4 separate regions of the Homo sapiens genome follow, and regions 2, 3 and 4 are each reported to be linked to region 1. The links are microRNA targets in miRTarBase. Many come from high-throughput screens and were not tested one by one. Region 1 holds a microRNA gene; each other region holds the end of a gene's coding sequence.

Region 1 (5,000 bases):
ATCGTAACCAATTTAAGCCACTGTCAAGAAAGAATAAGAAATGCCCCATTAAAGATATGTGTCAATTGTAAGGTGCACCCTGACTTCAGAAATGTGGGAAAAAGACAGATTCAATGACGTATCATTTCTGGAGATCTCTCCTCTGGAACCGAAACTAGACTTGCTCTATGTGCTACCTGAGAGCACAGTGGGGATTCTAAGAGAAAGTAGTAGGGAGCTTTGTTTAAGGCAAACTTTTCTATTGTCCTGAGTTGTGTGAGAATTGTGTTAACTGCTGCATGATGTGAGGACCTAGCTCCCCTTGCTCACGGTAATCAAGCAGGGCATGACTGACTTCTCATTTGGGATCATTAGGCTTGGTAACCTCTGAGTTCCCTTCTAGTTCTGACATTGGAAGAGTCTTTGAGCAGAGAGAAGGGACCTCATCTGACTCCTGCTTCCTGGTCTAGTGCTCAATGCATTCCACCACATTGCCTTTAGGATTCTAGGTTAGGGAGTGGCAAACAATATGTTTGCATGTGAATGTCCTTTTTCTGTTCATCCCCAAGTATGTGCTTTTCTGTCCTTCCCACCAGGAATACACCATTGACATCATCTTCTCCCAGACCTGGTACGACGAACGCCTCTGTTACAACGACACCTTTGAGTCTCTTGTTCTGAATGGCAATGTGGTGAGCCAGCTATGGATCCCGGACACCTTTTTTAGGAATTCTAAGAGGACCCACGAGCATGAGATCACCATGCCCAACCAGATGGTCCGCATCTACAAGGATGGCAAGGTGTTGTACACAATTAGGTATGTCAAGCCTCTGGAGTCTCACTTCCTGGAATTCTCTCTCCCCTTCTGATAATTTTAGCTAAAGATCCATGGGCAGAGATCTCATCCTGAATGATACCTCTAAGGGCCTGTCCAGCTTTCCTAGACCATGAGCTCAGCCCCCTTATGTAACAGATATAGAGGCCTCAAAATAGAAAGATATTGCTTAAAGCCACACACCAAGTTTGTGGCAGAGCTGGAACTGGTACTCAGTTACTTGGCTCCGAGTCCAGAGCTCCCTCAACTAGGATGTGCCAGTATGACTGCATTATCTAGACAATTCCATCCTACGTGGGCACTCGATACAAAGATACGTCCACAGTGGTGGAATTGTTCAGGCAGAGCAGCAGCACGGTAGTGGCAAAGGTACCTAAGATCAAGTTGGATACTTGAATTCCCAGCAGGGGAAGGTTGTGTGTGGGGGATAGCAGGGAGGATGTTGGCAGGTCCTGGAAACTAGGCTGGGCGAGAAAACAAAAGCCGATCGAAGTTGCTCCATACGTTTCTCTAATGATGGAGCCCAGAGTAACCAGATACTTCTAAGCTGTTTGTTTGTTTTGTTTTGTTTTGTTTTGTTTTGTTTTGTTTTGTTTTCTCTCTTGTTATCTCTCCTTTGAGCTTTTTGTCTTAAATTCTAGCGAGGTCCAGGCACGGTGGCTCACGCCTGTGATCCCAGCACTTTGTGAGGCTGAGGCAGGCAGATCACTTGAGGTCAGGAGTTCGAGACCAGCCTGGCCATCATGGGAAAACCCTGTCTCCACTAAAAATGCAAAAATTAGCAGGGTGTGCTGGCACTAATTCCAGCTACTCGGGAGGCTAGGGCATGAGAATTGCTTGAGCCTGGGAGGCAAGAGGCTGCAGTGAGCTGACATCACGCCACTGCCCTCCAGCCTGGGTGACAGAGTGAGACTCTGTCTCAAACAAACAAAGAAAAAAATTGACTCTGGCCATTCATTGGTGGTAGTCCCTAGACCAAAGCTGGGTGGATACGGAAGTGCTTAGGGCCAGCCTGATGAGGCTCCTTTCTCCCTTCCAGGATGACCATTGATGCCGGATGCTCACTCCACATGCTCAGATTTCCAATGGATTCTCACTCTTGCCCTCTATCTTTCTCTAGCTGTGAGTACCTTCTTAAGTTTCTGGGGCCCCAGAAACATGCTGGGCTCCTTCTTTTTCTCATCCTTGCCATTTACATTTTTCTGCCTCTGCTTTTCTTCTAAAATGCTGCCAAGGTTGTGCAGGACTTCCATCCTCCACCCTCATTTCCTTTCCTGCCAACAATACTGTGTTGCTCATCCCTTCCACGTGCCTCTGAAGCGTATCTCAAGTATGTCTGCTCCTCTCCATCTCCACTGGCACTACCTTGGTTTAGGCCTTTGTTATCTTCCACCTGGACTTTTGCCACATCTTCACTTTGAAACTGCACATGTCCAAAATGAAATTCATTGTCTCCTCCAAACCTCTACCACCAAAACAAGTGTGTTGCTTCTGGGTTCCCATCTGTCTCATTGAAGAGGACCATCACTCACCCAGTTGCGCAAATCAAGAACTTTGATGTTCCCTCTCCCTCACCTCCTGCATCTAATCAATCAGCACATCCTGTTGGTGTTTCCTCCCAGTCTCTATCGATGCTGTCTATTTCTCTGCACCCTGTACAGCTTTGACTTCCACCTGCATTAATTTAATTCTGCCTGGATTACTACACTGGCCTCCTTGACAACATGTTGTCCTCACAGAAGGACCAGAGTGACCTAGCTGAAGGGTCACCTAGGTTGGGTCACTTCTTAGTCTCGAATCTGCCGTTAACTCTCATGGATCAATTTGAAATTCCTTAGAATGAACCTCAAGGCCATTCATGAACTGGACCCTGCCACCCAATCCTGTGCACCTCATCCTCTGTGAGCTAGCCATCCTGAACTTTTGTCCTTTCCACAATACACCAGGTGTTTCACCTTTCTATACTGCCCCTTAACCCCTTCAACCTCATTCTTATTGAGAATATTTACTTGAGTTTCAAGATTTAATGGGAATATCACCTGCTTTATGAAGTCTTTTCTGAGTATGTCCCCAAGTGACCTTTATCTACTTTGTTTCCCCGCTGTTCTGTGGACATAGGTTTTTCAGAGCTCCTCCAAAAATCACAGTAGTATACTCACTGTCTTATAAAATTAAATGTGATTGCTTGAGGGTAGGGTTCATGCCTTGCTCATCTCTGTATTTCTGGCCTAGGGCCTGATACTGAGGAATGCTCAGTAAACGCACTCATTGAATGGACTTCAACAATGAGGTAAGAGAGGCAAGGTCCCACAGCTGGTGAGGCCAGAGACAGGACTCCAAGGCATTGTGCAGGCTGACTTCATGCTATTGGAGACCTCAGGTGGGCTTCCAAGTCTCATAAGACCCTCTTTCTCACATTCCTTTCCAGTTTCCTATCCTGAGAATGAGATGATCTACAAGTGGGAAAATTTCAAGCTTGAAATCAATGAGAAGAACTCCTGGAAGCTCTTCCAGTTTGATTTTACAGGAGTGAGCAACAAAACTGAAATAATCACAACCCCAGTTGGTAAGCGTGCCAGGGCTTGGCGGAAGTCCAGGAAGGTGGTAGGGATGATTGGAGATGGCCATCCATACAAATGCTTTGCAGTCATCCCGTGCAAACATTGTAAGACATGGCTCCTGTCTTATAATTGCTAAGCACTTACAACTGTTTGCAGAGGAAACTGAGACTTTGTAACTATGTCTCAGTCTCATCTGCAAAGAAGTAAGTGCTTTGCCAAGCTCCTTGAGAGGTTAGGTAAGTAGATAAAGTTCTGCTGCTGTCGGAATGTGCAGCTGGCTTTTTCATGCAGACCCTTCAGTTTCGAGGTTACAACTCTGACCTCTTTGGATGACTTTGGGGAATGGAGCTCGTGTGAGTTCTCCATACCCAGAACCAATCCAGTCTGGTTGAATGGGAAGCAAAGTCCATTGTAGTGGGAGGTGGAGGCTAGAGTTCTAATGTCAGCTAGTTTAAGGCTGGGAAAGTCTGGAGGAAGTTACAGCAGCTACACTGGCTGCTGCATTGACATTTATCTTAAAGGAACAAGTCTGAAAAGCACAGATTCTTATCAAAGGCTTCATGGTGGATTCCACATAGACATAGTGGCCACTGGTTTTCTGACCTTTTCTCTGACAAAGACTAAAGGGGAAGGTCCTGGGTATCTTACACTTCAGCTCCCAATTAGATGTGAGCACCTTCACTTATGTTCCTAGGTGACCTGAATGAGGAGCCAAGGGACCTCCCCAGGGTAGCTCCCAGAGCAACCCTGGAAACACTCTTCACACATCCTGACCAAGTTCAGGGCAGTGAAGGCACTGCCCTCATCGTTTCCAGAATGTGGATGGAGCCAGTCACCCAACCAGCCATTTGTCGTGAGAGGCATCTTGTTCTGCTACCATGTGACTAGGCAGAAAATCTGCTTTTGTTTCATTTATTGAGTCAGTCTCTGGATGAGGGAAAGCTCATGCTCATGTGGCTAGAGCTTTGCTTGCACAGTATTAGGCAGGGGCAGAGGGCTGGGCTACCTTAAAAATACTTGCCCTTTTTCTTGGGGACTCTGGGGAAGCGGTTTTACTACCTTTGACTTGGGAGCCTTGCTCTTCTGCCAGCTAACCATGGGCCTGCCTCTTGGTTTTCTGCACCTCAGCTTTTCCCGGATAGGTGGGGACCCATCATCAAAAGTGACAGAGAAGATAAGGCCCAGGGGCTTTCAAGTCACTAGTGGTTCCGTTTAGTAGATGATTGTGCATTGTTTCAAAATGGTGCCCTAGTGACTACAAAGCCCCAGAGCCAGCATCATCATCAAAGCAATGACAGTAGGTAAGCACCAGACCTCCTTGGGAGTGAGGAGGATTCTTGAGGAGAAAAGAGGTCTTCTTTCTCCTCTGCTGGAGACTAGTTGATCTGGAGACGTGGTTCCTTCAATGTCAGAGTTATCTTTGGGACTGGTCTCAAACTCTTCCAGTTGGGCCCTGGGGCAGGTCTCTCCATCTGGAGCATACTTACGTGCTCGGCGATTAAGGGTTCAGAATGCAGTGGTAGCCTGCTACTCTGGCCATCTTGGACCTTGATCCAGAGAATCTCTGCTTCAGGAGCTTCTAAGAGAGTCCAGCCCTGCCTCCAGAGAGAGGCTTGCCCTTCACT
Region 2 (8,372 bases), not on the chromosome of region 1:
TTCACCATTCTGTAAGTCAGTATACTGTTTTCTGTTTCCATTCATGCAGTGTGGAGTCTATCAACAACTATGGTCTTTCTCAGAGATTTGACACCCACTCCCAGCACTGCCACTTACTAGCTGAATGAGAGAGGCATGTCAGTTGATCCCTTTGAGGATCAGCGTCCTCCATCAAAGGGGCCTCCTTCCTCAGAGGACTGCTACAGAGAGAAGTGAGATACTGTATATATTAAAATGCTCTGTTGGCTGGGTGCGGTGGCTCATGTCTGTAATCCCAGCACTTTGAGAGGCCAAGTAGAAGGATCACTGGAGCCAAGGAGTTTGACACCACGCTGGGCAACATAGGGAGACATTTTCTCTACTGAAAAAAAAAAATTATTCCAGTGTGGTGGCACGTGCCTGTGATCCCAGCTACTTGGGAGGCTGAGATGGGAGGATCACTTGAGGCTAAGATGGGAGGATCACTTGAGCTTGTGAAGTCAAGGCTGCAGTGAGCCATGATTGCACCACTGCACTCTGGCATGGGTGACAAAGTGAGACCCTGTCTCAAGAGTAAAAAACAAGGCCTGGGGCAGTGGCTCAAGCCTGTAATCCCAGCACTTTGGGAGGCCAAGGTGGGCAGATCACCTGAGATCAGGAGTTCGAGACTAGCCTGGACAACATGGCAAAACCCCATCTCTACTAATAATATAAAAATTAGCCAGGCATAGTGGCACATGCTAGTCCCAGCTACTCAGAAGGCTGAGGCACGAAAATCACTTGAACCTGGGAGACAGAGGTTGCAGCGAGCTGAGATTGCACCACTATACTCCAGCCTGGGCAACAGAGACTTCGTCTCAAAAAAAGAAAAAAAAAAAAAAAAAGAACAAACAAACCTCTGTTAACAATAGAAGATTTGGCCAGGTATGGTGGCTCACACCTGTAATCCCAGCACTTTGGGAGGCTGAGGCAGTCAGATCACCTGAGGTCAGGAGTTCAAGATCAGCCTGGCCACCATGGTGAAACTCCGACTCTGCTAAAAACACAAAAATTAGCCGGGCGTGGTTGTGAGCACCTGCAATCCCAGCTACTTGGGAGGCTGAGGCAGGAGAATCGCTAGAACCCGGGAGGTGGAGGTTGCAGTGAGCCAAGATGGCACCACTGCACTCCAGCCTGGGCAATAGAGTGAGACTCCATCTCAAAACAAAAAAAAACAAAAAACAAAAAACAATAGAACATTATAAAATTGTTATTGCTCTATGATGTTTATCATTATCTGTTCTAGATTCTAATACTCCTACTTTTACTTTCTGGGTTCTTGTTTTATCCTGAATTTACACTGAAATTTTGTTTTTGTTGTTGGCCCCAGATTTGTTAATTTTATGTTGTTCTTTTTGTATTGGTACTTCCCTTATCTCAGGCACTTTAATTGGAATTTTAGTGGAATTAATATGAAAAAAAGAGCTCCATCTAACACCATAAACTACAAAGACCTAAAGAGAAGCATTTTCATTATTTTTTTTTTCCGTTTAGGTGGAGGGTTGATCTCGCATTGTACTAATTGAGTAAATTGAATGTGAAAAAGGTGTTGAGAGTTGAGCCATCTAGGTGTGAAGAGACAAGAACACATTAAGCACGTGTAAAGAAAAGCTCAGATTGAAGAGGTGGTTGGATTTTGTGGAAGCCAAAATCACTCCTCTGATAGGTCTTAGTTATAGGGTGATAATTTTAGGAACAAGAGACTTAAGGGAATTAAATACTGTGTAGAAAATGCCCTTCTCAGTGAAATAAAGAAAAGAAGATTAGAGAATATTTATATCCTAGTGACCACAAAAATAACATAAACAAAGAGAAATGGGCCAAAGGTCTTTTAAGTTATTCATACTTTGAATTTAGTTGCAAGATTCCCTTCCTATGTTTACTAATGTGGTGAGACCAAAGCTAGGATATGTAATAATTTAATCAATTAATCTTGTAAAGCATATTTACTATAAAGCTTATTTACTAAAAGAAACTGTATTTGTTCTAGTAAAGTACTCAAAAGAAATTGAATTTGATCATACTAGCTATGAATGATCTCACCAGCCCTGTGATAACCTGCCACACTGTAAATGAATTTGTAAACCTTGTGTTCAATTAATACATTACCATATATACTATGTGGAATTTGAGTGGCTATCTACTATTGGTGCAGAAAAAAATGAAAATATTTCCTCTGATTCATCCAAGCAGAGTGTGTGTCCTTTTTTTCCACAAGTGAGAGAAAGAATTAAAAGAAACAAAAAAAGGAATAAGAAGGAGAAGAATGGTAAGAAAAGCAATAAGAGAAGATATTTGAGACCGTGAAGCCTTCCGTGAAAGAAGGCTGCCAGTCCAGAATTAGAGCTCATGGTCTCTGGTCTTGGATTAATCAGGTACCATTTGCTTGAACTCTGAAGATACAGAGAAAAGAGATGGATTTCTTCAGTAATTAACAGTTTGACAAGACTTCTAATTTTGATACTAAGCTAGATAACAGTTAGTTCTTAGGATAAAAGTAGAGACCATTCTAGTCATATAGAGAGAAAACATCAAGCCAAGTGGGAAGGAGATGGACTTAAAGGATGGAAAGATACAATTTAGCTTCAGACTGATGGAAGGTAGAATTTCTAAATAACTATAATTATTGATTGGTTCATAGTTTGTTCCTCAAGAAAGAATAACAACTTTAATAACATGGGTATACTTTACTCAAAACTTCTTTTTTTTTTTTTTTGAGACAGAGTCTCACTCTGTTGCCCAGGCTGGAGTGCAGTGGCTCACTGTAAGCTCTGCCTCCCAGGTTCACGCCATTCTCCTGCCTCAGCCTCCCGAGTATCTGGGACTACAGGCGCCCGCCACCACGCCCAGCTAATTTTTTTTCTATTTTTAGTAGAGACGGGGTTTCACTGTGTTAGCCAGGATGGTCTCAAACTCCTGACCTTGTGATCCACCCGCCTCGGCCTCCCAAAGTGCTGGGATTACAGGCATAAGCCACCACGCCCGGCCCACTGTAGTCAAAGCTTCTGTGTCTTACTCCTGAAGTAAGGGTACAGCAAAATAAACTGGGGAACAACATCCTTGAGTAACAACATTGGAGGAGGCAACAAGTCAGCAGCAGACATTGTAAATAAGAGTCCACCTAACCTAAGTAAAAGGGTCTTTTCTTTTTGAGATAGGGTTTTGCTCTGTGATCCAGGCTGGAATGCAGTGGCAGGATCATAGCTCACTGCATCCTTGACCCCCTGGTTCCAAGCAATCCTCCCACCTCAGCCTCCCAGGCAGCTGGAACCACAGGCATGCGCCACCATGCTGGGCTAATTTTTTTATTTTTGTAGAGATGGGGTCTCCCTATGTTGCCCAGGCTAGGAGTCCTTTCTTGTTCTAACATGGCTCACTAGAATTCTGCACTGGTATTGAGAACCAAGGCCCAGGCAGGAACTGCATTATTTAACCATACTTTGTTCTCTGGGACTATATTTCCTTCAGGCGTGCTACAAATTGCAGCAATAGAGCATTTTAACTGTCTTGTTGAAGGTAGACTAGGATCTTTGCATCTCATATTCTAACCTCATATTTATCAAAAATATAGGTACCTTATTTTGACATGACATGTAGGTAGAAACAGGCAATGAAATACGGTGCAACCATTAAAAATGATACGTAAAATATTTAATGACGAGGAAAATGATACACTGCAAGATGAAACTGATTATTAAACTATAAATAATGATGATTACATTTTTAAAAACTTTATAATTCTATATACATAAAATAGGGAAAGATATAAAGCAGAATATCTCTGCCATTAAAATTATGTTTACAGAAAAAATAAGAACACAAGAGAACAACTTGTAATGTTTAATGAAAAATGGTAGAAATATGGGATCTAATTAAACTAAAGAGCTTCTGTACAACAAAAGAAACTACCATCAGAGTGAACAGGCAACCTACAGAATGGGAGAAAATTTTTGCAATCTACTCATCTGACAAAGGGCTAATATCCAGAATCTACAATGAACTCAAACAAATATACAAGAAAAAAACAAAGAACCCCATCAAAAAGTGGGCAAAGGATATGAACGGACACTTCTCAAAAGAAGACATTTATGCAGCCAAAAAACACATGAAAAAATGCTCATCATCACTGGCCATCAGAGAAATGCAAATCAAAACAACAATGAGATACCATCCCACACCCGTTAGAATGGCAATCATTAAAAAGTTAGGAAGCAACAGGTGCTGGAGAGGATGTGGAGAAATAGGAACACTTTTACACTGTTGGTGGGACTGTAAACTAGTTCAACCATTGTGGAAGTCAGTGTGGCGATTCCTCGGGGATCTAGAACTAGAAATACCATTTGACCCAGCAATCCCATTACTGGGTATATACCCAAAGGATTATAAATCATGCTGCTGTAAAGACACATGCACACGTATGTTTATTGCGGCACTATTCACAATAGCAAAGACTTGGAACCAACCCAAATGTCCAACAATGATAGACTGGATTAAGAAAATGTGGCACATATACACCATGGAATACTATGCAGCCATAAAAAATGATGAGTTCATGTCCTTTGTAGGGACATGGATGAAGCTGGAAACCATCATTCTCAGCAAACTATCGCAAGGACAAAAAACCAAACACCACATGTTCTCACTCACAGGTGGGAATTGAACAATGAGAACACATGGACACAGGAAGGGGAACATCACACACCGGGGCCTGTTGTGGGGTGGGGAGAGGGGAGAGGGATAGCATTTGGAGATATACCTAATGCTAAATGATGAGTTACTGGGTGCAGCACACCAACATGGCACATGTTTACATATGTAACTAAACTGCACATTGTGCACATGTACCCTAAAACTTAAAGTATAATAAAAAAAGATTAAAAAAAGAAAAATGGTAGAAATAATATTATATGATTTGTGACAGAACAAAATGTGATTTTGACTTTGTTGAATTTGGACAGAGAAGAAACTGGAAGGGAGACATGAGAAATTGGCAGTGGTTTTCCCTTAGTGCTGGAATTATGAGTGAGTTTGGTGAGTTATTTTTCTTTATACTTTTCTGTTCTCTTTAAATGCGCATGTAATTTATTTATGATAATGTAAATACTTCTTAAATGTCTGTAACTCTTCAAAAGTGATGCTTCAGGATAAATGAGCTGCTAAGCATTTTAAGAATTTACGTAACTCTAATATACTGGAGGGAAGGGATGGATCTGAAAGGCTACCATCAGTAAGAGGAATAAAACTTGCTCTGTGTCCTCCAGAAGTCTGGACAGTGATCAGCAGGTAATAGACACAGAGGAACTGATTTCAACTTTTGAAAAAGAGTTTTCCACTAATTAACACTGTCCCACGGCGGAATAGGTTCCCTGAAGATGTTGAGTGCTGAAAGTGATCAAGCAGAGGCTAGAGGGCTTCTTGCCTGGGAGCAGGGGAGGGTTGGGGGAGAAGGACAAGAGGACAGTGGGGTAGGTGACCTCTAGCATCATTGTCACTGCTAATATTCTATCTGTGCATTCATTTGCTCATTCACACAGCTTCCAAGATGGCCCCCAATGATCCTTGCCAGTGGAGTATTCATGCCCTTGTGCAATTCCCTCCCAGACTGAACAAGCTGATCAAAATAATCAACAGGATACTCGTGGAAAAGATGGTGCATGACTTCAAACATAAAGATTTGGTAGCTTCTGCCTTGCTCTCTCTTGAGTTGCTCACTCTGGAGTAAGCCAACTGTTGTGTCATGAGGACACTCAAGCAGCCTGTGGAGAGGCCTGAGAGGAGAGGAACTGAGGACTGCCAATACCTGACAGAAACGTGCCAGGTATGTGAGTGATTCACCTTGGAAATAGACCTCCAGCCCAGACAAGCCTTCAAACGACCACATCCCCTGACATCTTGTCTGTAACTTCAGAGAGACCCTAGCAGAATGATCCAGGTAAGCCATGCCTGAATTCCTGACCCATAAAGACTGTGTGGGATTAAGTCACTAAAATTGGGGGTAATTTTTTAATATTAGATAACAATGCGATACATTTTTACCTGAAATGTAAACAGGTAAAATCTGTTATGATTTGTTCCATAACAGAGTTAATATTCTGTGATTCAGTCATTTCAGCTGAACTATTGACAAGTTTTCCTTAATAAGGCAAAATCCCCAACTGTGATAGATGCATAACGGTAGCCGCTCCACTTAAGCAGTACAGTTTAACCCGCCACCATTCGATGTCTTAACATGTTCCAAGAAGAACAATGTCATCTTGGTTTTAAGGTGATGCATCTTGTTTTTTTCTGATAGAAAAAGAATAATGTGCTTTTTATTCTCCTAGAGATTTGGTGTCTGTGAATGGTTGTAGCTCTGTGACATTTACCATACATTTCTCAGCTTCCACCCATCAATTTGCTGAGAAAAAAAGGTATGCTACAAATCGCAGCAATAGAGCACTTTAAAAAGGTAATTTTCAGCATTTTGGCACCTAAAAGGGAAACTTTCATCTGCTTACACAGGCCAGAAGCAAAGACAAAGATTGCATGTTGTTCTTACAGATGACTTAAATCATCTCTTTGATGATAAAAATATTTTTAAGCCGTGAAAGTTATGAGATATTCTGGGTAAGCCTGATTATCAAAGAATACCACAAATAGCTTTGGAGATCGTGTATTGTTTGTCACTGAGTCAAAGAGATCTGTGGGATTGTGAGGATTCTTGGGTGGAGGGGTGACTAATCCTGCACGTCCCTTTGTGAAGACTCCAGTAAGTACTCGCACAACGTACATGTGCTTTCTCCCATTGCTGTCTGGCTTGGAGTAGGTGTCCTTGGCAGAATAACTGGCATCCACAGCAAAATAGGTTCCTTTTCCATAGGATACAGCTGGAAAGAGAAAGACAAAAACCTTCCTAAGAATATAAAATTACACAATGTGTAGAACCATGCCCAATCTGACAAAATTGTTTTCTAAATGCAGTTTTAGCCAGGTGTGTTGGCTCATGCCTGTAATCCCAACACTTTGGGAGGCTGAGGCAAGAGGATTGCTTAAGGCCAGGAGTTCGAGACCAGCCTGGCTAGCATTATGAGACCCCTTCTCTACAAAAATAAAACAAAATTATTAGCCAGGCATAGTGGTGCATGCCTGTAATCCCAGCTACTCAGGGGACTGAGGTGGGGGCATCATTTGAGCTCAAGAGATCAAGGCTGCAGTGAGCCATGATCTTGCCACTGCACTCCAGTTTGGGTGACAGAATGAGACCGTCTAAAAAAAAAAGCCCATTAAAAAAAAAACTGCACGTTAAAGTTATTTTTCATCATTTCTAAAATTCACTCCATCTTCCCTTAGAAGGTTGCCAGTCTCCTTTACAGTGAAACACAGTGAGCTCTATTCTGACAGTGATAATACAGCTGCCCACCATGGTTCCACACTGCTTGGGTATGAAAAGTCTGAGACTATTGTTTGCCTTATTCTGATCAGCCAAATTACTTGCTTCCTTACCATTTTTCCCAGCACAACTTCTATTAAAGCCGTGCTGATTGACATATGGCACTGAGTCTGCATCTGTCCCATGGAAGAGGAGTCTCTCATTATTCTTATGGTCATTCTTGATATCCATTTGCCTTTTCTTTACCTGGTAGCTCTGCCAGAGAAATGCATTCTGTATCCTCTCAATCTGCAGGTAACAAAAGACAAAATATTTCAGAAAGGACCTTGGGGCTCAGTATATTGTACTTGTTGTGGATTTAAAATAAGCAATATGAAAAAGAAGGAAGAGGAAGAGAATTTGGTGAAGGAAAAGGAGAAGAAAATACAAATAGACAGCAAATTCAGAGAGTAGGCAGCTTTCTGCCTTTAGAGAAAGATGGGCTAAAAGTATCTATTAGTGTCTATGCTTTGTAATAGTGCTTGTTGGTATATATTTTAAATAACATAATTTGCGGTTTATATCTAAATGATTACCAACATATATTCCCTGGAATTCCTGGAGATTCACTGACATTCAAACACCTACTCAAAAATTTGTAGTCATTCAATAGCCATGTCCTTAACTCCTCATCTTCCAACTCATTCCATGTGGCTTCTCCTCATAACAATTCTTTCTGTTATTGCTCCAATTATGGTCACAGATCACCTCATAATTGCCTAATCTTATGACTATTTTTTTCTAGACCTCTGAATAGCATTTCAAACCACGAGCCATCCCCTTCTTAAAACTCTGCTCTTCTTTCACTTCTTTTCAAAATATCACCCTCTACTGGTTCTCCTTCCTCCTAGGAAATGGAGTTAACATCCATTCAGTCATCACCTACTGAACATCTCTATGAATCAAGTTTGTGTTGGGTCTCTGTCCTCATGAAACATTCAGTCTA
Region 3 (8,372 bases), not on the chromosome of region 1:
TTTCTTGTAAACAAGAAATATTTTCTCTTTGTGTTGTTTTCGTATAAAAACAGGAGGCTGGGTGCGGTGGCTCACGCCTATAATCCCAGCACTTTGGGAGGCTGAGGCAGGCGGATCACCTGAGGCCAGGAGTTCGAGACCAGCCTGACCAACATGGCAAAACCCTGTCTCTACTAAAAATAGAAAAATTAGCTGGGTGTGGTGGCGCATGCCTATAATCCCAGCTACTCGGGAGGCTGAGTTGGGAGAATCACTTGAATCCAGGAGGAGGAGGTTGCAGTGAGCAGAGATTGTGCCATTGCACTCCAGCCTGGGCAACAGAGCAAGACTCTGTCAAAAAAAAAAAACAAAACAAAAAACAACAACAACAAAAAAAAAACAGGGAAATGCCTCAATTGAGAAGATTTACCCATGTCGTCTGACTTATGAATAGTGGGAATAAAAACAAGTCCATTTAAAAATAGTGATTCTAAAAAGCTGCATCATGTATTCCTCTGCTCCCCAGTTTTCAGGAAGGTGTGCTCTGTGTCATATCCCCGTGACTATTGTATTGTATTGCATGCCACAAATTGAAGGTGGGGGATGATGAGAATTATATTTTCTTCTTGGCCTACAGGCTGACTTTCAAACTGTGCCACATGTACTGGAATTGGCCTGGCACCATCAGAGTTCCAGCTCCTTGCAAGTATGCCCACAAGCTAGCTTTCCTGTCAGGACACATCTTGCATCATGAACCAGCCATCCAGCTGTGCGAGAACCTGTTCTTCCTGTGACTGCACAGCTTGGAGATGGGCTGGTGAGAAGAAAGGCGGCCTCAGAACTCAGCTGTGACTCTTGCAGAATCAACAGAGACTGAAGTGGGCTTTTGTGTTATAATTTTCCCTTTCTCCAACCCTGTAGAATAAGATTTCTTTCTTGTCTTTTAAACCTAATATCACCAAGAAGCAAGTTTCTGAGTAACAGCTGAAAATGGCCTTGTTGCCTGTGTAGAGCAAGTTACGGTGGTACTGCCACTCTGCAGGTGGAGCGGGTGACTCTGGGGGACCATTAAGACCTCCAGACCGGGTGCGGTGGTTCACACCTGTAATCCAAGCACTTTGGGAGGCCGAGGCGGGTGGATCATGAGGTCAGGAGATCAAGACCATCCTGGCCAACATGGTGAAACCCCGTCTCTACTAAAATACAAAAAAATTAGCCGGGTGTGGCGGTGCACGCCTGTAGTCCCAGCTACTCAGGAGGCTAAGGCAGGAGAATCGCTTGAACCCGGGAGGTGGAGGTTGCAGTGAGCCGAGATCACGCCACTGCACTCCAGCCTGTTGACAAAGCAAGACTCTGTCTCAAAAAAAAAAAAAAAAAGCCAACATGAGCTGCAGAAACCAGCAGAAGCAGCCATTATACTTCTAAGCTGTGCCAACTAAGTGGTTCCCATTTCTGGAGCCAGAGATGATAATTAAGTCATTGCAAGTTGCCTGAAGAGAATTACTCAGGCAACTGGGAAAGGCAGTGGAAGGTCTGTGAAGCAAAGTTTTCAAGTAGATATTGCTATTACTGGCAGGTGTGCAAGGCGTGTAGTAAAATCAGTTTGTGGCATAGGTCGGCCCTTGCTGACTAAATCCTCTCTGGGGATTGAATTGATGACGACTGTGACTTGAGTTGGATTCGAAAATGGCTTCCCTTGGCCTCTTGAAAGAGTGCAGATGAAGCCTTTTCCGTGGATTTCAGTAACTTTCCAGCATACCATGACGATTTCTTCCCCAAATATACACATGCTCTTTTGCTCTTTGTGCCTGATCTTCAGTAATTTTTAGTTTTTTAACAGGCAGAAAAAATCTAGCAGCTAGGAAAGTTCAAGTTGGGGTGGGAGTTTTTAGTGAACTTTTCTCCCAGGTGTGTGGCCTTTATTTCTATTTATATATGTTTGTAAATGGAATTACCCCCTTTCTCTTGCAAAATAACCGCTTCCTGGCTGTTGGCTCACTTTGCTGGAATTTTTCTGAATCCAGGTTAAGATTTCCAGAAGTCAGCTTTGGAAAACGTGACACTCCTACCAAAGTCCAGATGGTTAGAAAGTTATCACATACCATGGGTTTCAGTGTTTTTGGAAACCCGTTTTTTTCTGGTTTTTTTTCCCCCCTCTCCATTTTAGAATCTTCTCCCAGTCCCTTCGGGCCTAGTTCTGTCTCATCTTGCTTTATTGGGTTTTAAAAACCGGTCTTATTTAAGCTTTTCTAATTTGTATTTATGTACTTATTTATTTTTTGGTATGATGGCAGGGAGGGGACAAAGCAGAAATACCCCTTTTATATGACAATGTGTGAGAAAAGAAACTTTAGCTTAAAACTCCGTAAAATGTGCTCACTTCAGCAGCACATATACTAAAATTAAAATGATATAGAGAAGATTAGCATATAGAAAAAAAGAAAAAAGATTTCCTTAAAACAAGAAAACCAAGAATGTTTTTGGTTTGTTGCGGTGCCCAGCCGAGGTTGAGGAGGGATGGGTATTGTTGGTGCACTGCTGGTTTCATTTGGAGTGTGGGACATTAGGGTGAGACAAGGACCTGGAATTTAAAAACCACAGAATCAAACACTGTGAACCACTGGTCTCTGGCTAAGCAGATCAGTTTTCTGATTTTCCTTGGAAGCGTTTTGAATTTTTCTGTTGAAGTTGGATTTCCTAATACTTTTTTTCTCTTAGATAATCAGAACAAATGGTTGAATACATTATAATACAAAAATTTCTTCACTTTTTATTCTTGGTTTTCTTGCCTCGTTTTTCGGTTTTAATGCCAAATGATTGGGTCATGGGGTGGGAAATAAAAACAACTTTGTATAAATTTGTAGTTGTGTTTGAAATAATGTTGTTTATTTATTATTATATTGATGTAACTCTTTTTCTTCAGAGAGCTGCAGCACTTCCTAGAAACACTCATTACTCTGCTTGTAAGTTGCAACTCCAGTGTTAGTAGCCAGGTAATTTCATCATCAGCTGGGTAAGAAGACTTATTGAAAAAAACAGTAGCCACCTCACTTCTCAGACAGATGAGGCACTTTGTGTGTGTGTGTGTGTGTGTGTGTGTGTGTGTGTGTGTGTGTCTGTGTGTGGTTTTTAGCTCTCTTTCTCCCATCAGACAATTTCTTTTACCCTAAGTGAGAGCCAGAGTGTGTCCACTTGCAAGGGCAGCCTCCCCACCGCTCCACTATTTTAACGCTTGCCCTTTTTTACATATACCTCACGGGGTGTCTGTCACCATTGAAATACCTTCCCTGGGTACAAAAATCCCATTAGAAGGAATAAGATCTAGTAGTTCAGTGGCACAGTAGAGCAACTATAGTTAACAAAAATTTATTGTACATTTCAAAATAGAGGAGTGGAATTGGAATGTTCCTAACACAAAGAAATGATAAATGAGCCGGGTGCCGTGGCTCACACCTATAATCCCAGCACTTTGGGAGGCTGAGGTAGGTGGATCATTTGAGCTCAGGACTTCAAGACCAGCTGGGCAACATGGGAAGACCTTGACTCTACAAAATATAAAAATCGGCCAGGCTTGGTGGTGTGTGCCTATAGTCCCAGCTACTCAGGAGACTAAAGCAGGAGGATTGCTTGAACCCAGGAGGCAGAGGTTGCAGTGAGCCGAGATTGTGCCAACTCACTCCAGCCTGGGTGACAGAGCAAGATTCTGTCTCAAAAAAAAAAAAAAGATAAATGTTTGAAGTGATAGCCCAGTTACCCTGATTTGATTCTTACACATCATATGCTTGTATCAGAATATCACATGTATACTATAAATATGTACCACTACTATGTATCCAAAAAATTAAAAATAAAATTTTAAGTACCTTCCCAAAGCACCTAGCTGCTCACTTAAGCACTGCATTTCTTTAGAATACTACAGTTTCCCTATTTATTTAGAAACTCTGTGCTTCCTGAACTCATTCTAGAAAGAACCTCATTTCTGTGCAGTAGTCTCTTATCCATGGGGAATACATTTGAATACCCCCAGCAGTTGCCTGAAACCTCAGATAGTACTGAATCCTATACGGTACTATGTTATTTGAATCTGAAACTCAGGATGTCTATTAAGTGACTAATGTGTAGCATCACCGGTGTGGATACTCTGGACAGACATGATTCATGTTCACGGGGGATGGAGTGGGACAACGTGAAGTTTCATCACACTACTCAGAACAGTTTGCAATTTATAACATGAATTTCTGGAATTTTCCATTTAATAGTTTTGGACTTTGGCTGACCAAGGGCAACTGAAACCTCAGAAAATGAAACCATGGAAAGGAGGGACTGCTGTACGGTGTGACAGGGTCCTTTTTACTTGGGCAGCATTTTGTTGAATGATGTGAAAAAGGAATTTTAGAAATGACTATATATTTTAAAACCTTAAAATTTGGGCCTGAAATTAATTTCTCTAGAGGTTTGGGATTATTAGAGAAGACCCTGTTTTTTCTTTCTGGCTCTATGGCTAGCTGAGTTACTTAGTAACTTTTCCTGCCTAGAGTTTTCTTTTTTTCAAAAAATGAGGAACATCAAGAGCTTGAGAAGAAAAGCCACAGACTGAAAGAAAATATTTGCAGAATACACATCTGATCAAGGATTGTTATCCAAAATATACAAAGAACTCTTTAAACTTAATAAAGAAACTAGTCAGTTTTTTTAAAAATCGGCAATAGACCTGTACAGACATCGCCAAAGATGCACAGATGGTAAATAAACGTATGAAAAGATGCTCCACATTATATCTCCTTAGGGAACCACAAATTAAAACAAGGCACCCATTCCATACCTGGTAGAATAGCCAAAATCCACAACACTTAACCACGCCATATGCTGGTGAGGTTGCAGAGCTGCAGGAACTGGTACAGCCACTTGAGAAGAGAGTTCTTAATAAAATTAAACAGGATTACAAAACCACATACATAATCTTATCATATGGAGCAGCAGTCATACTCCTTGGTGTTTACCCAAAGGGGATGAAAACTCATGTCCACACAAAAGCCTGCACACGGACATTCATAGCAGCTGTATTCATCGTTTCCAAAACTTGGAAGCATCCAAGATGTGCTTCAGTAGGTGAATGGACAAACTGCACCTGGACAGTGGAATATTATTCAGCACTAAAAGGAAATGAGCTATCAAGTCATGGAAAGACACAGAGGAACTTTAATGTATATTACTAAATTGGAAAAAGCCAATCTGGAAAGGCTATATATGACTCCAACGTATAACATTCCGGAAAAGGCAAAACCGTGGAGATAGTGAAAGGATCAGCAGTTTGGTCGGGCGCAGTGGCTCACACCTGCAGTCCCAGCACTTTGGGAGGCCGAGGTGGGTGGATCATGAGGTCAGGAGTTCGAGACCAGCCTGGCCAACATGGTAAAACCCCGTCTCTATTAAAAGTACAAAAATTAGCTGGGTGTGGTGGTGGGCACCTGTAATCCCAGCTACTCGGGAAGCTGAGGCAGGAGAATCGCTTGAGGCAGGAGGCAGAGGTTGTAGTGAGCTGAGATCACGCCATTGCACTCCAGCCTGGGCGACAAGAGAAAAACTCCGTCTCGGAGAAAAAAGGATCAGCAGTTGTGGAGAGAGAGACGAGAGATGAATGGGCAGAAACAAAGGATTTTTAGGGCAGCGGAGCTATTCACTGTGATGCTGTAATGGTGAATACATGTCATTATGAATCTGTCTGATCCCACGGAATGTACACTAAGAGTGAACCCTGATGTAAACTATGGACTCTGGGTAATATGTCAGTGTAGGTTTATCAGCTATAACAAACTTACCAGGGAAGAAAGGAGAGGGGAGTGGGGGAGGGGAGAAGGTTAATATTTGTTACAAGAAGGAAAGGGAAGCTGAGTGGTACTAGCACAGCTCCCAGGATTCTGGTTTCATTCCAGGTAGGGCCAGGACATACACAGCCTGAGCCCCTGCGAAGTGCAGGATTGCTACAGCTGAGTCTCCTGCATGAAGAGAGCTGGAAGCTGGAAGGGGACTAGAGAACCCCTGCCAATCATGCTGGGGCGGCCGCAGGGAAATGTGGTGTTTGACCAGGGAAATGGATAGGGCGAAAAAGACATCCATGAAAAATCCCCAAGCCTGGGCCACATACAGATAGACGTGTGTAGCCTGAATTTTTGTTACCAGCATGCTGAAGGGCCACAAGCTGAAAAATTAACATAAAGATTGACCCAGACTGGTGAAAGTTCCAGAGCCTTGTGGAAACCAATGCGGTCCATTAGATTGCAGCACAAAGAGGTATAAATAGGACCTATGGAAGAGAAGAGACCAGAGAGAATGAGCAGGTCCAACATGTGTCTGAGAGAAGTTCCTGCAGGTTAAAATAGAAGGAATGGGTGGCACACAATATGGAAGATGCAAAGACTGAGAATTTTCCAGAATGAAAGATACGTGCCAGTGTGGTGGCTTATACCTGTAATCCCAGCACTTTGGGAGGCCAAGTTGGGTGGATCACTTGAGCTCAGGAGTTTTAGACCAGCATGGGCAACATGGTGAAACCCTGTCTCTACAAAAGAAATAAAAAATTAGCCAGGCATGGTGGCACATGCATGTATCCCAGGTATTCAGGAGGCTGAGGTGGGACGATCACTTGAGGCCAGGAGGTTGGGGATGCAGTGAGCTGTGATCGCACCACCGCACTCCAGCCTGGGTGACAGAATGAGACCTTATCTCAAAAAAAAAAAAGAAAGAAAAAGAATCGTCTAACTGAAGAAACGTACTGGGGATAAAGAAAATATATCTGGCCGGGCGCAGTGGCTCACGCCTGTAATTCCAGCACTTTGGGAGGCCGTGGTGGGCAGATCACCTGAGGTCAGGAGTTCGAGACCAGCCTGACCAACATGGAGAAACCCCGTCTCTACTAAAAATACAAAATTAGCCAGGCGTGGTGGCGCATGCCTGTAATCCCAGCTACTCGGGAGGCTGAGGCAGGAGAATTGCTTGTACCCGGGAGGCGGAGGTTATGGTGAGCCAAGATTGCACCATTGCACTCCAGCCCAGGCAACAAGAGCAAAACTCCATCTCAAAAAAATAAAAGAAAAGCATATCCATTGCTAGATAAACTATAGTGAAACTATAGAACATGAAAGACAGAATCGTGAAAACAAAACAGCCAGATATGATCCAGCAATTCCACTACTGGGTATATACCCAAAGGAATTGAAATCAGTATGCTGGGCGGGGCATGGTGGTTCACACCTGCAATCCCAGCACTTTGGGAGGCCAAGAAGGGTGGATCACTGGAGGCCAGGAGTTCCAAACCAGCTTGGCCAACCTGGTGAAAACCTGTCTCTACTAAAAATACAAAAATTAGCTGGGCGCGGTGTTGCACGCCTGTAATCCCAGCTATTCGGGTGGCTGAGGCATGAGAATCGCTTGAACCCTGGAGGCAGAGGTTGCAATGAGCCGAGATGGTGTCACTGCACTTCAGCCTGGGTGACAGAGCGAGTCTCTGTCTCCAAAAAGAAAGAAATCAGTATGCCAAAGAGATATGTGCACTCACATGTTCATTGCAGCACTGTTCACAATAGCCAAGATATGGAAACAACCTGAGTGCCCATCAACGGATGAATGGATTTTTAAAATGTGGTACATTTACACAATGGATACTATTCAGCTTTAAATCAAAAACAGGACATTCTGTCACTCATGACAACCTGAATGAACTTAGAGAACATTATGTTAAGTGAAATAAGCCAGGCATAGAGAGACAAATACCATATGATCTCACTTGTATGTAGAATCTAAGAAAGTCAAACATAGAAGTAGAGAATAGAAAGGGAGTTGCCAGATACACGGTGGGGGTAGAGGGAGGTTGACAGGGAAAAGGGGAGACATTGGTCAATGGGTATAAAGTTACAGTTAGGAAGAATAAGTTCTAGTGTTCCGTTGCACAGTATGGTGACTATAGTTAATACTGTATATTTTAAAATAGTGAAAAGAATTTTAAATGTTCCCACTACAAAGGAATGATTTTTTTAAAAAAAGGAATAGCCTGACAAAGACAAGGCAAAAAAGAATATGTATATATTATATACATATATATATATTTGAGATGATAGATATGCTAATTACCCAGATCTGATCATTTCACAATGTGTACAGGTATCCAGACATCACATTGTACCCCATAAATATGTACAATTACTATTTGTCAATTAAACAAAACCAACCAGAAGTTGAAGAGATTGCTTACAAAGAAAGTTAGTCAAACCACCAGCACACACTTCCTGAACCACAATAGATGCCTTAAGACAAGAGGAATAGAAATTTTAAAACGCAATCGTAGGCCAGGCGCAGTGGCACATGCCTGTAATCCCAGCACTTTGGGAGGCCAAGGT
Region 4 (8,372 bases), not on the chromosome of region 1:
AGACCATGTCTGACCAGATCATTGGGAGAAATATCCTTTTTATCTGCAGTCGGCCTCCTGTGGGCCTTTGGAGCCTATTTGCCGGGCAGTGGTGGGGATAAATGAGTAGTTTTCAGGCTAGCTTCAGCCATTCACTTGTAGAATTTGAGCTTGGATTGTACTGTGTTTCTGAGAAGGACTGCGCCGAGAGCTAGGGGCAAAGCTGAGTTAGACTCCTGGCTCAAGGAGCATACGTCTACCAATCCTAATAGCTGGTGTGGTGGACCATGCACTGTGAACTAAGCGCTTTTGTGTGTGTCTTTTGATGCTCAGCATGACCTTATGAGTGGGTTGTAGTGTTATCATCTTTAGCAAATGAATAAATTGAGGTTTAGGGGTTCCATCACTAGTAAGGGTCAGGGCTGGAATCCGATGCGGGGTAGCCATGCCCCACAGTCCTGTACTCTTACCCACCAGCGTGTAACAGTGTCGAAAGAAAATTGGAAGACCAGTTTCCCTAAAGTCGTTGTGTTTAAGGCTGTAGTCTGCAGGGACGGGAGGAAAAAGGCTCAATGAGATGTTGGCACGCGTTGTCTTTAACTTCAGCACTTGATGATATGAGTAGTCGCATTGATGATCTGGAAAAGAATATCGCGGACCTCATGACACAGGCTGGGGTGGAAGAACTGGAAAGTGAAAACAAGATACCTGCCACGCAAAAGAGTTGAAGGTGAGGAAGGGGGCAATTTTTTTTTTCTTTTCTTTTCTTTTTTTTTTTTTTTTTTTTTTTGACACGGAGTTTTGCTCTTGTTGCCCAGGCTGGAGTGCAATGGCACGATCTCGGCTCCCTGCAACCTTTGCCCTCCTGGGTTCAAACGATTGTCCTGCCTCAGCCTCCCGAGTAGCTGGGATTACAGGCTTGTGCCACCACACCCAGCCAATTTTGTATTTTTAGTAGAGACGGGGTTTCTCCATGTTGGTCATGCTGGTCTCGAATTCTGACCTTGAGTGATTTGCCCGCCTCAGCCTCTCAAAGTGCTGGGATTACAGGTGTGAGCCGCCGTGCCCGGTCTTTTTTTTTATTTTGTCTTAAAAGAATAGAGAGAACCTGTAAGTATAATTTGTATGTAGTCAGACATTCTGTAGATCAGTTCCCAGCCATGATCCCAGCAAGCATCACTGTATTGTTTACCTGCTGTGGACTTGATGTTTTGAAATTTTTCATGCCAAACTCATTCTTTACACCGAATTTATTTTCCCAGTTTTTATTAATTAGACTTCTGTCACTATTAGTGAAGACCACTGGCTAACATTAGATAACCACTGAGTTTTTATCATTCCAGCTAATAATTAAGGTGTCTTTTTGTTGGCCTATAAAGCCTGTCACTGGAAGATTTTCCATTGCTTTTTTTTTTTTTTATGGAAATAACTGATAAGTCACCCACATTACCACCTTCTTAAATGGCTTAAATTCTGGAGACTTTCTTGGTAACTTGACATAGGTGAACTAGATTGTGGCCACATTAAGCTTTTACCCTGGAGTTCATTTAAATTTCCTCTGAATAGTTTCAGATGTCAGAGGAAAGCCTAGTAATTCAAAGTACCTACACAGCAAGATAGGTAAATGTACAGAATCACTCAGCAGAGTGCATGGTGATCCTTTTCCTCTGTATGTGTGAAAAATAAGTTTTAGACTCACTTTTCTCTTGTTTCATTTATAACATTTTAATTCTCTATAAAAATGAATGTTGCTGAGGGAGGCGGAGGTTGCAGTCGAGGTCACGCCACTGCACTCCAGCCTGGGCGACAGAGTGAGACTCTGTCTCAAAAAAAAAAAAAAAAAAAAAAAGGTACTGGTGCGTGGTGACTCATGCCTGTAATCCCAGCACTTTGGGAGGCAAAGGCAGGCAGAGGGCAGATCAGTTGATGTGAGGAGCTCGAGACCAACCTGGCCAACATGGTGAAACCCTGTCTGTACAAAAATTAGCTGGGTGTGGTGGTGCACGCCTGTAATCCCAGCTACTTGGCAGACTGAGACAGGAGGCAGAGTTTGCAGTGAGTCGTGATGATGCCACTGCACTCCAGCCTGGGAGACAGAGCAAGACTCTGTCTCAAAAAAATAAAATAAAATGGTTCCTGAGTATTTTTAGATTCGTAGAGTACTAAGCAGAATGTACAGTAAAACATGCCTAATTTCCTATTTTCTGGGCTTGCTGTGGACCACATTTTAAGTCACTGTGAAATACAGATTTGGGATGTTGAAGACAGACTCTAAAATTTGCTTTTATCTTCACAGTAGGTGGGGTTCATTCACTGTGTGAGTAAATCACATAACTGCTTTCTATGGGTTATGTCATCGTTATTCTTATCCAGAGATAATTTGGAAAAATGTCCTACCAGTCTCAGATGCTTCTGTGGGTCTCTTTTTATATTATGTGGCAATCAAAACTGCCATCAACTGACTGATTATCTTACCACAAGAATTTCAGGATGGTAGACTGGCTAGTGATGGGGGTCATTCAAAGAAAAGAGTGGGAGTAGGAAACTGACTCTGAAACTTTTAAAGATATTTCCAGTTAAATCTATTGCTAAAATATTGCCAGAAGAAAATAAGTTTAACTCAGTAGGAGAGTGGAAAGGGATTTGTAGTTGATAGGTCTATATGTCATTTTTACTTGTGCTCATATAATGAAAAACATGTTGATGATTTTTCCTTCTTCAACAGGTTGCTAATAATTTATACTGGAATCTGGCATTTTTCCAAGCCAAGAGAAGATCGAATGGCTTTTTGCAGCTAACTACTATGTGTAGACAGGTTTTATATTATAAAGTATGCATTCTTATCACCTAGTATATAGTTAGTTTGTAGAGTGATTTCCCCCCAGTTTCTTGAACATGGTATCTTCACATCTTGGACCTTGGTCAGTTGTGCTATTCATTATTAAACACTAAAACTTTGGCGGTTCTTGCATAACATTGTCAGATTTTTTAGTGTATTTCTGTGAAGTCATTTTTTTTCTTGTCATTCCTTTTGTAGTAGTTGCTGTTTGGATAAAAGTTGATGTGTGATTTTTTATTAAACAAATAGTAAACCCTTCAATTATAGTTAGTCTTGGTGAAGTAAGATGTTTGTAGACTTTAGAGTTCTTTAATTCTTGGCACAACGTGACTGTTGAGCTAACACCAAATAGTGTGTTGGCAATACTTTTCAAATGGCTGAAAACACCTAAAAATTGTTCATTCAGAAATATCTGTCACTGCTCTGTTGCCAAAACTCAGAATAGAACTTAGACGTATGTCTGAGTCCCTGAGATCACATGCTAAAGTCGATGAAAAGTAACCACTGCCACTGTCTTGTGTCAGAACTTTTACAGTACAGAAAATAACAGAATAGCCTTCTGTAATGAGGCGTTTGTTAGAGTTTTGCATGAGATTCTAATACTTCAGTAGGACCCTACCTACGTGGTTCATCTACAATGGTTACCATAAAAAATCTGGCAGGATTTTAAAACTCAATCAGTCTTTCCTTTGAGCTAGTGACTTGAAAAGAAAGAGAGAAGGAAAAGAGACCATATTAAGTCCATGCCAGTTGCTTGGCTAGAATATGATCAACGACTTGTAGTAGACTCAAGTTTTTAAAAAACACTATTTTACTTAAACTGTTTCTTATCTAAATTCTTGCAGAGTGTCAATGTTATCATTGATTATAGAAGACAGGGATAATACCTTTATCTCTGGCCACTCAAAAATGCAGTGCCAGGAGTGCTAAACCTAGAGGCCAATACTGATGACCTGGAAGGTGATCCATATGATTGTCACCACAAAGTGCTTTTACACAAAAACTTGAAAATTTGAAAAACATGATTTTTTTAAGTTTCTCATCTCACCAGTCTTGGTGTTTATATTGCAAATCTATCAAAGTAAGAAATAATTTGTGCTGTATACAAATTACATGGGGAACATAAAGGAGTGAGATCCTTCTGTGATAAAATGAATTCACCACTCTGGTTACCCAACTACAGAACCTCCTTTGATCAGGCCAGTAGGTTGTGATGCAGGCTGGAGCCCCCGAATGCCCCACACACACTGCAGCATTGACCAGACCATCCGAAACCTGCGTCCCTGGTGATGTTCTCAAGCCTCGGAAGTGGCAAATGGAAATGATATGGCCGGTTGCGGTTGTAGGAGAGTTGTGACTTAGGCAGGAGTCGACCTCCTCAAGTAATGGAACGATTTCAAAGGCAGGCTGCCCTGACCAAAAATATCTGCCATGAATAAAGGTGCCTGAAATCCTGCTATGAAGCTTCCTTTGTGTCAAAAATCTGTTTGGTTTTCAGATGGAAATGCAGAAATCACATTAGAGTATCAACTAAAACCTCTGGACGGATTAAGTACAAGTAGCCCAAGGCAAAGCAGGAGAGGGGGTGTTGGGGGAGGTTGCCTGCTGGAAGGGGAAGCTGAGGAGCGGGAGGAGGGCTTGCCAAGACTGGCATTGCAGGAGACTTGTCTCAGGTGTGTTCCCAGAACTCTTGCCCCTGGAGATGCTGCAGGAAGGAAGGGGTTATGGTCACTTGGGTTTAGACGACATTCTGTGAACCTCATGAAGAAATTAGCATATTAAAGACTCTGAAAGTAGAGCAGAGAACTCAGCTTTAACCTGCTCACCTGCTAGTTTTCGAGGTCTCGCTCTGTTGCCCAGGCTGGAGTGCAGTGGCACAGTCATAGCTCACTTGGAGCCTGAAGCTCCTGGGCTCAGGCAGTCCTCCTGCCTCAGCCTCCCAAGTAGCTAATATTACAGGTTCGTGCCACCGCACCTGGGTCTTGCTGTGTTGCCCAGGCTGGTCTAGAACTCCTAGGCTCAAGCAGTCCTGTCTCAGCCTCCCAAAGTGCTGGGATTACAGGCTGGAGCCACCATGCCTGTCCAAGGGTCTTTTTTATACTATATGAAGTATTCCTTCTCCAGCTATTCTTGTTCGTTTACCAGCCAGTGAAGATTCTCTTGAGGGCTGAACAATACAGATGAGTATGGGGGCCCTCGCACCAAGGAAAACAGCGTTACATTTAATTAAGTGCCCTGTCTCAAACCCCAAGGCCCCACAGCTTCTTCATTTGGCCCCTAGTTCATCCTGCTTTCCTTTGAGCCACAGGATTTTAAAATATTTCAATCTTATTTTCATATCAATTTTTTCTTTGTTTCACTACAAGTACAGTCATTGTTTAACCCTATCAGGACTAACACAATATTTCACGTAACTAAGAGTTAATTTGCCCTTGTGAGTCCTTGGAATTTAAGCCCCACACACACACACTTAGAGCACTGTTGCTATGGGAACATAGAGTCCTCCAAACAAAAGTGAACTTTTTCAACATGCTGTTTGTAAATGGAAGCCTTCCCAAGCAGACACTGTGTTCCTCTTTTATTTTGTATTTTGCACATTATATATTTTGATTAGATTAAAATGGAGGAATTTGCAGGATGTGTTGTCATATCTAGCCCTGAAAGTTAACTGGTTACAGTTACCAAATGTTCACAGCTAGCGCCATTGAAAGCATTGACTGTAAACCGCTGTACTGTGCTAAGCCTTTTGTTTGCACTGTTTGGCTTAATCCTCACAACAACACTGAGAGGTTTTCATTTGATGAGTCATATTTAAAGAAAAGGAACCCAAGACGGGGAGTCAGGGGCACAAGGTCACAGCTGGTAATGATGACCCTGGAATGTCCTCACAGCTGCACACCTGCACCGCTCACAAACACAGCTGACCGTCTCACAGCTGCACACCTGCACCGCTCACGAGCACAGCTGACCGTCTCACAGCTGCACACCTGCACTGCTCACGAACACAGCTGATCGTCTGCCTCTTCGTGTGAGCTGAGCTCCGAATCTCAGCTGTCCAGGCTGTCTGGAAATCATCAGCCCCACTGGCTGGATCTCAAAATTTACTTTCAAAAGGCTGATGGAGTGTTTTCAATTAAACATGACCTAAAATTAAGTAATAAACACACTGGATGTGAGTTTTTATTTGGAATTTAAACTATTCAGAGCTGGTAGAAAATGTGTGCTCCTGGATCAGTGCCTTTTTTCTCCTAAATCAGTTGAGAACAACAACAGAAACAAATGACATTCCTCAAACATTTGCCCAGAGCACAACCACGGGGAATATGAACCACAGGTTTTCACATTGGTTTTCCATGCCTATACCTGTCCTGTCTCCCACAAAAATTATTGCTTGAGGCCCAACCCGGGGGATAAAAAGACACCCCCCCGCCACTCCGTGACCTATTAGCTTACCATCCTATTGGATTTCACTGTTTTTTGTTTTGTGGTGTTTTTTTTTTATTGCAACGAAGACTTTTAAATGGACTCATGAAGAAGCCATCACCTGGAATCTTAATCTTGCATTAATTTTAAGTGTCTGATTTTAGCTGCAGCCACTTGAGAACTTTTCAATGAATGAAAATGAGGGAGGGGAGATGCAAGTCACTGCCCAAAAACAAAACCAGAGGAATTGTGATTGAACATTGCACTTATCAACCCTACAAATTAATATGGAAATAGGAAAAGGGTTTGTTTCAACAAGTCAGGATGACAGTATTTTAAAAAAGAAAAAAAGGCCAGCCTGGGCAATATACTGAGACTCCATCTCTACAAAAAAGTAGAAAAATTAGCCCAGAGTGTGGTGGCACACATCTGTGCTCCCAGCTACTCAGGAGGCTGAGGTGGGAGGATCATTTGAGCCCAGGAAGTCGAGGTTGCAGTGAGCTGTGATCGGACGACTCCACTCCAGCCGGGGTGACAGAGCAAGACCCTGTCTCAAAAAAAAAAAAAAAGGGCGGATCCTAACGCTTGGTCCTCACACCTGAGGCTCTCACTAAGAGGTGGCTGGAAGCTCCTCAGACCGCTGCCTAGGGTTCGAGTGATCCTGAAAGCTGTACAACATCAGCCTCTGTGGGATCCCTGAGAATGATGAAATGTAATATGTGGCTGTCTCATCAACAGAGCTTCATTTTACCAAAGCATATGTAGACACCACATACATGAACTACATACCTATCGTGTAGATGCTGCCCTGCCTCATAAGAACACTCTTGACTGTCCTGCTTCACAATAATAATCTTCGCAATAATGATCTAATAATGGTCAAATTCTGTGTCTCTACCGTAGAAAACAGAATTTGACCATTTAGTCACGTTGGTCTTGCAAAATGTCCACCTTCCAAAAGAGAACAGTATTGCTTCCCAATAATTAAGAATAGTCTGGATTCAGGATCCAGCAGCTTAGAAGCGTTTAGCTACCAATAGCAAAAATCAGCCCTTTTAACAATGGTGGGATGTATTATTTCACATGGCAAGAAGTCCCAAGGGAGGGCAGCTCTGGGGCGAGTAAATTCTGCACCTCAGTAAAACTAAGAGCAAGACCCGGCCGGGCGCAGTGGCTCATGCCTGTAATCCCAGCACTTTGGGAGGCCGAGGTGGGTGGATCACCTGAGGTCAGGAGTTCTAAACCAGCCTGGCCAACATGGCGAAACCCCCGTCTCTACTAAAAATACAAAAATTAGCCAGGCGTGGTGGTGGGCGCTTGTAATCCCAGTTGCTCGGGAGGCTGAGGGAGGAGGATCGCTTGAACTCAGGAGGTGGAAGTTGCAGTGAGCCGAGATCGTGCCACTGCACTCCAGCCTGGGTAACAGAGCGAGACTCCATCTCAAAAAATAAAAAACAAAAAAATAAATAAAAAATAAAAAGACCCAACCCCAGATTTGTTCCACCTGGGTGCATCCGGTCAGAGAATGCCTTTCTTCTTCCCTTTTGTCTCCTAAGAGTGAAGAAAATGTTTCTTTGAAGGTGTTTCCACCCCACTCCTGTGCCTAAAATGATCCTGGCAAACAGGACCCGCATGATAGGTTGAGCCATGTGGTTCTTGTTTTTTTGTTGTCACAACTCAGGTTGGGGGTGTTACTGGCATCAAGAGTGTAGAAACCAGGGATGCTGCGTCAACACCCTACCATGCACAGGACAACCCTCACCCCAAAGAGTGGCACAGCCCCAAGTGTCAACAGTGCTGAGGTTGAGGAATCCCAGCTTAACCCATTCATGAGACCACCTGAGCCTGGTGTAACGGTTCTGCTGATAGTTTCCGGACCCTCAGAGGTGGAGACATAAGAGAACAATACCAGGGTTCCATCAGAAAGGAAATCAGAATGGCTATCGGGTGGACAACCTACAGTGTTTGCTACAGACCTTCTAGATGTAACTTCTAGATTATAAACACTGGTAACACTGGAGATGGTTAAATCGGAATTAGCTGACTGTCAACCTTGGTGGCACATTAGAATCACCTGGGGAGCAGTTCAAAGGCCCAAAACTGGGCAGCACCACAGAACCCTCACATCAGA

What was found. Region 1 holds the annotated microRNA hsa-miR-452-3p (CUCAUCUGCAAAGAAGUAAGUG, at 3,564-3,585, shown strand). A microRNA usually pairs through its seed, bases 2 to 8, with sites in the 3' UTR of a target mRNA and lowers its output. Matches are read on the target gene's strand: a 7mer-m8 pairs with bases 2 to 8, a 7mer-A1 pairs with bases 2 to 7 and ends in A, and an 8mer does both.
Region 2: the mRNA of PARP15 is a reported target of hsa-miR-452-3p. Seed matches in the 3' UTR shown: 8mer at 6,503-6,510 and 7mer-m8 at 3,980-3,986.
Region 3: miRTarBase lists PIWIL2 as a target of hsa-miR-452-3p. Seed matches in the 3' UTR shown: 8mer at 1,695-1,702.
Region 4: the mRNA of HSBP1 is a reported target of hsa-miR-452-3p. Seed matches in the 3' UTR shown: 7mer-m8 at 4,996-5,002.

Annotation. Positions count from the first base shown.
Region 1 is chrX:151,958,219-151,963,218 of GRCh38, reverse strand. It overlaps MIR452 (microRNA 452), which reads left to right and starts at 3,507; the gene lies at 3,507-3,591. It overlaps GABRE (gamma-aminobutyric acid type A receptor subunit epsilon), which reads left to right. Exons shown (of 9, transcript NM_004961.4): 4 at 576-796; 5 at 1,854-1,936; 6 at 3,243-3,380. MIR224 (microRNA 224) reads left to right here and starts at 4,561; the gene lies at 4,561-4,641.
Region 2 is chr3:122,634,323-122,642,694 of GRCh38, reverse strand. It overlaps PARP15 (poly(ADP-ribose) polymerase family member 15), which reads right to left. Exons shown (of 12, transcript NM_001113523.3): 11 at 7,501-7,675; 12 at 3,648-6,884. The coding sequence ends at 6,595. Among named protein-coding and RNA genes, the nearest start is that of PARP14, 42 kb to the left of the region's middle. RefSeq lists an enhancer at 6,403-7,602.
Region 3 is chr8:22,354,733-22,363,104 of GRCh38, forward strand. PIWIL2 (piwi like RNA-mediated gene silencing 2) reads left to right here. Exons shown (of 23, transcript NM_018068.5): 23 at 617-2,836. The coding sequence ends at 773. Among named protein-coding and RNA genes, the nearest start is that of SLC39A14, 8.4 kb to the right of the region's middle.
Region 4 is chr16:83,808,717-83,817,088 of GRCh38, forward strand. It overlaps HSBP1 (heat shock factor binding protein 1), which reads left to right. Exons shown (of 4, transcript NM_001537.4): 2 at 1-30; 3 at 589-709; 4 at 2,705-8,372. The coding sequence ends at 707. Among named protein-coding and RNA genes, the nearest start is that of HSBP1, 4.9 kb to the left of the region's middle. RefSeq lists enhancers at 4,212-4,723, 4,724-5,235, 5,236-5,747, 8,238-8,372.